Linked DNA regions of Homo sapiens: region 1 is linked to region 2. The links come from fine-mapping of genetic effects on gene expression. A gene starts in region 2. The other region holds a variant in brackets. All regions are shown on one strand. Distances are between the middles of the regions.

Region 1 (2,906 bases), 28 kb after region 2:
TGTCTGTAAAATAGGAATAATATATGGAGAAAACATATACAAAGTACTTGGCATGGTAACTGGCACGTAAAAGACACTTGATCAATGGCAGTAATTGTGCTTTTGGTCATCGCCATCGTCGTCATCATCATGGTTATTGGTTGTTTATCCACAGGTATGAAAACAGACTGGACATTTTCCTTCTTATCTAGTTCTTCTTGGATAGGGAGAATAGGAAACTGTTAAGAGGCAGGCCAAATAGCTCTACTCCAGTGATTCTCAAGCAGAGAAAATTTTGTCTCCCAAGGACATTTGGAAATGTCCTGTAACATTTTTGGTTGTTCTAACTGGTGGGATGCTACTGGCATCTAGTGAGCAGAGAGGCCAAGGATGCTGCGATGGTGCTGAATATCCTATAATGCACAGGACAGCCCCTCACACCAAAGAATTACCTGGCCTGAATGTCAGTAGTACCAAGGATGAGAAACTCTGCCATACTCTGAGGCCTGGCTGTACCTCTTGGGCTCAAAATATCAACAGGTAGAAAGAAAAGTGAGCAGAGAGTTGCCAGGCACGGTGGCTCATGCCTGTAATCCCAGCACTTTGGGAGACCAAGGCGGGCGGATCACCTGAGGTCAGGAGTTCGAGACCAGCCTGGCCAACATGGGTGAAACCCCATCTCTACTAAAAATACAAAAAATTAGCTAGGTGTGGTGGCGCACATCTGTAATCCTAGCTACTCAGGAGGCTGAGGCAGGAGAATTGCTTGAACCCGGGAGGTGGAGGTTGCAGTGAGCTGAGATCACGCCACTGGACTCCAGACTGGGTGACAGAGCAAGACTCCGTCTCAGAAAAAAAAAAAAAAAAAAAAAGTGAGCAGGTGAGCAGAATCCTTCCCTAGCAGGGTCACTGACCATCAGAGTGTCCCCAGGAATACTGCTTACCTCCCGGGGACCAGGATTGCCGAGGACGGTTTGGAGTAGGAGATCTGAGTTTGAGACTCAGCTCCTCCACTGACCTGCTGTTAGATTTTGGGCAAGTCCCTTAACCTCTCTGAGCCTCCGTTTCCTATCAGCACAGTGGAGATGAAAAGACCTGCCTCGCTGTGTGGATTGAATGGGGAAGCATGTGAAAGCACAGTGCCTGGCACTTGCATAGGGTCTGCTTGAGTGTGGGCTTCCTTCCCTCCTGGCCTAGAATATCGAGGTGGCATTATTATCCTCTGACATATTCACTGAGGGGCATAAACCCATTAACCCTGTGCCCTCCCCCCGCCCCACAGGGACAGCGGGACACCTGGAGATTTACATGGGAGCTCCTATGGAGGTCGAGGACTCTCAAGAGTTGGGTCCTTGGCTTGAGCCCAGAGACTGAGAGGTAGACGGAAGCCACAGGTCACATTCTAGCTCTCAGTCAATCTCCACCACAATGTCCACGGGTCTCTTCCTCCCACCGACTTCTGGCACTGTGTGTGCCACCCTTTTGGCACCAGCAAAGTAAGCCTTGTGACCACTTTCAGCTGGGGTTTCTATTTATAACTCTTAGCACACTCAGCTTATCATATCTGCAGGTCTTGGGTTAGAAGCTCCTGGAGTCCCCTTTTCTTACAATGTGGGTCACAAAAATCAGAGCAAAGGACATCTGAGCCACCGTTTGACAGGGTGGGGAAGTAAGACTTCCCCTGAAGTCTGTGTGTGGTGGGCCTGAAACCCAGACTTCTGGAGCCACAGGCTGC[G/A]GCTTTTGCCATAGGACTGCAGTATGATATTGATCAGGCACCTTTCTGTGGTCAGTGCTGGGCTAGGCATGGGGTGGGCGGTGGGGTGGGGTTGATGCCCAGTACATGTGATTGAAGAAAAGATTCTGAAAGGAAACAATTCCTTTTCTCATTCTTTCGGTCTGAGTTCCTCAGGACATAATCCCCTTGGCCCCTCTGGTTTTTTGGTTTTTATTTTATTTATTTATGTATTGTTCTTTGGTTTAAAACAGACCCACGGCCCTCTTTGCGTCTTCTCAGTCCTATGCACAGGGTGGGCATTGATTGAATGGATGGGAGGACAGATGGACAGAAGAACGGGTGGAAGGACTGTGTGCCCAGTGAGTGGGTGGGCGGGTGGGTGGGTGGGGGCATGAGTGGATAGCAGGATGAAAGAATAGATGGGTAAATGGAGCAGAAAATGTGCTCCCTTATTTCTGGGAACCAACTACAAGGAACACATGTTCAGTATGTAATTGTGTATGGCCTCCAGTTCAGGGGAGCACACGGCAGAATTCCTACCCCAACTTTGGGAGCTGTGATACACAGAGCCATGAACAGACAGGGCAGACGGGGTGGGGAGCTTATGATAAGGGATCCAAGAGGAATAGAGGGTGAAGGAAATGGCCATGAAGGATTCAGGCGGCTCGGGTGACTATGTACCCTACAGAGTGCTTGGAAGTTCATTCCCGGGTTTCCTTTCTTGTGCACTGCTGTTGCCAAATCAAAGCCCCTTCATGGAATCTGCCTCGGTTTGTTCCAGTCTCTAGTGCCTTCTAGGAAGGATCGCTGCTTTCCAGAGTGATGTGCTCACGCTGACTTCCCTCTCCTCACATCCCCTGAGTCCATATCTACAAAGAAGAATAAGCTTTTGGAAGACACTGGTTCTTGTGAAGCTATGAACAGTTCCATGTAACAGAATCACTGGTTGGAAAAGCCCTTAGAGATGATCTCCAAACTGGGCTATTTTACAGGCAGGAAAACCAAGGTCCAGGGAAGGGAGAGGACTTTCCAGGATCAGGTAGCAAATGAGTGACAAGGGAAATCCTGGTCTTCCGAGTCTCAGGTTATGAATCCACAGCTTGCTCTTCCCCTGCCCAGCCACAGCCCCTGTGTCCCACCGGTCCCATCAGGACTTTTTTCTCTTTGGGGGAGATTTCACTATTTCTTCTGT
Region 2 (2,906 bases):
CGCTAGAGCCCAGGAGTTAGAGGCTGCAGTGAGCCGAAATCCCGCCACTGCACTCCAGCTGGGGCAGGAGAGCAAGACCCAGTCTCCATAAAATAAAATGGGTTGGGAGCAGTGGCTCATCCAGCACTTTGAGAGGCCAAGGCTGGTGGATCACTTGAGGTCAAGAGTTGAAGACCATCCTGGCCAACATGGTGAAACCCTGTCCCTACCAAAATATATATATACATACACACACAAAAAAATTAGCCGGGTGTGGTGGCATGTGCCTGTAATCCCAGCTACTCGGGAGGCTAAGCCAAGAGAATCGCTTGAACCAGGAGGCAGAGGTTGCAGTAAGCCGAGATTGTGCCACCACACTCCAGCCTGGGCTGCAGAGTGAGATCCTGTCTCAAAGATAAATAAATAAATAAATACTACCTTGGAGTTTCCTATAAAAATACGTGTTTTCTTCCTATAAAAATCTTAGTTCTTAGCTGAGGAGAGTTTGAAAGCATCTCACAGGCACTGAGCGGCAAGGCAGTCGGCCCAGATGCAATCACTTTCTGGAAATCAATTGAAAATAGAACCGGGAAACCAGCCTCCACTCCTGATACTGTTACTAACCTGCTATAAGACTTTGTGCTCACCTTTGCTTCCTGGGCCTCAGCTTCCCTGTTTCTGAGAGAAGAGATCCCCTCTCCGAGATCTCTTCCCGCTTTCTATAAATATTGATTGAGTACCCGCTGCCTGCCAGGGATATCGCCCTGGGCTCCTGGGATACAGCTGGAATCTCGACAGCCTGGGGAGGAAGGAGCCTTTGATCCTACAGCGGCAAGAGTTCTTGACACTTGCCGGCTGCCAAGCCTGTTTCCTCCCGGTCTAACGTTCTGTGGTTGTCTGAATCTCCAGCTGCCCCTCAAAACCTTCAATCAGATTAGCGCCGTGCTCCTTTAAAGACCCTACTCAAAGTGCCTGGAGCTCACCTGGGTGTGTTTGTGAGGCCCTTTCCCTCTCTTTACCCCGCGGAGGAGTCCGACCTGGAAGCCTCCTGCTGGACTTCTCTACTGGACTGAGTGCCCGGGAGTGCCAGAGCCAGTCCCAAAAAGGACCCAGGAGCGGGGACACCACGGGGAGGCGCCGCCACTCCAGTGTGCGGGACCCTGGCACCCCCGGCGCGTTCTCCGGCCTCCCCAGGATCACCTGCACGGGGCGGGGCCGGGGGCGGGACGCCCCGGGCGGGGGCGGGATCCCAGGGTGGCAGCGCCGGGCGGCGGCGGGGACCCTGGCTGGGAGCGCGGCGGTGCCGGCGGGAGGCCGAGCGGGGCTCGACAGAGCAGGTAGGAGGCGCCTGGTCGCCGGGGTTGCCCGGGGCTGCGGGGAGCGAGGAGCGGTCCGGCCCAGGTGCGGTGGCTTCCTGTCCACCTGCCGGCCGCGCTGGGCGAAGGAGGGCCCGGGGGTGGGGACGAGGGGTCCCCAGTCTCACCCCCACATCTGTTGGAGGAAGTGCCTGGGGTCTGCGCGGGAGGGCGTTGGTCCGGGGTGGTGGGAGGGAGGCTGATCATCTCCAGTGGGTCTTGGAGACGAGGTCGTTTCCTTGTCCCCTCCCCACCCAAGCATCTGGCGGAGGGGCCGAGGCTCGCTGGAAGAAAAGGGAGTCGACCTTGACCCGGCCTGGAGATAAAGGAACTTTTACCCACTTGGGGCCTTATCCGCCCCATCTGTTAAATGGGCGCCTTGATGGGTCTGCCCTATGCAGAGGCCCCTCCGGAAGATCTGCGATTCAGCGAGATGAAAACCCACGGCAGAGAAGGAGCCCAGGGCCGTAGTTTCCATCCACAGCACGTTTGGAGGGGCTCGGGGGTCGCTCATCCAGCAGCGCTCCTGAGGAAGGATGCAGAGACGGCTCCAGTCCTCTGGGTATCCTTGTGGGAGGAGATGGCTGTGTCAAATATGAAGGCTGGATTAGAGAGACCAAGGCAGCCCTTGAGTCTGGGAGAAGATTCTGGAAGGCCCCTTGGAGGAGGTGGCATCTGAGTGGGGCAGGGAAAGGAAAGGTGGTGGTTAGGGCAGCGCTTTGGAGTCCCTGCTTTACCCCTCAGCCAAGGCCGTCCAACAGTCTCGGGCAAGTCCACACTTTTCTCTATGTTTCAGTTTGATGTGCTCCTTAAATGAAACAATTTCTCTGACAGATTAAATCAGATAACTCATAAAGTGTTTAATACAGGGTGGGTATATAGTAGGCACTCAATGAACATGAGCTATTAATGTCTGCTAGCAGCTGCTTGGGGGCAGGGATGATGCCTATTTGGTTCACCCTTGTATCCCCAGCACCAGCACGGTGCCCAGCATGCAGTAGGTCTCAATACATATTTGTCCAATGAATGAATGAATGCATATGAAGTACAATGCTTGGCACAAATAGTGAATTTACAGATGGCTGGTTCTAAGAGGTGGGTATGGATACTAGAGACAGTGGTCTAGGTGGATGGAACAGTTATAAGCAGAAGCCAAGAGCAACAGATTATAGGCACCCCCTCTTATGGTGCATGTGTGTATGTGTGCATGTGTGTGTGTGTGCGCTTGTGTGCATGTGTGTGCATGTGGGTGTGTGCACGTGTGTGCGTGTGTGTGCGTGTGTGTGTTGGTGGTGGTAGTAGAAAGTGACAGGCACAGCCAGAGCACCGGGATAGAAGAGGGCACATAATACCCTGGAATCCTGAGTCCCATCAGCCCGTGGGAGTGGATGATGGGGCAGGAACTCTAGGTAGGCCAATACCTTTACTCATGTCCTCTAAGTGGGGAGAGGGGACAGAAGGGCAGCCAAGAGACACCAAAGGACCATGAATGCCTGGTGGGAGGGGAGGAGGAAATGGGAAGGGGGTTCCCATGACCCCTTCATGGCCTGTGGCTTTCTTCACCTTGTCCCT

Evidence for each region. PIP is the estimated chance that this variant, and not a neighbour inherited with it, causes the effect. A credible set is the group of variants that fine-mapping cannot tell apart.
Region 1: its variant is the best candidate, but not a certain one, in a credible set for the expression of NCMAP in pancreas (GTEx, PIP 0.53).

Annotation. Positions count from the first base shown.
Region 1 is chr1:24,582,888-24,585,793 of GRCh38, forward strand. All of the region lies in intron 1 of NCMAP (non-compact myelin associated protein), which reads left to right. Among named protein-coding and RNA genes, the nearest start is that of NCMAP, 28 kb to the left of the region's middle. The variant G/A (reference allele first, on the strand shown) is at 1,715.
Region 2 is chr1:24,554,854-24,557,759 of GRCh38, forward strand. It overlaps NCMAP (non-compact myelin associated protein), which reads left to right and starts at 1,234. Exons shown (of 4, transcript NM_001010980.5): 1 at 1,234-1,316. It overlaps NCMAP-DT (NCMAP divergent transcript), which reads right to left and starts at 1,171. Exons shown (of 3, transcript NR_109781.1): 1 at 963-1,171.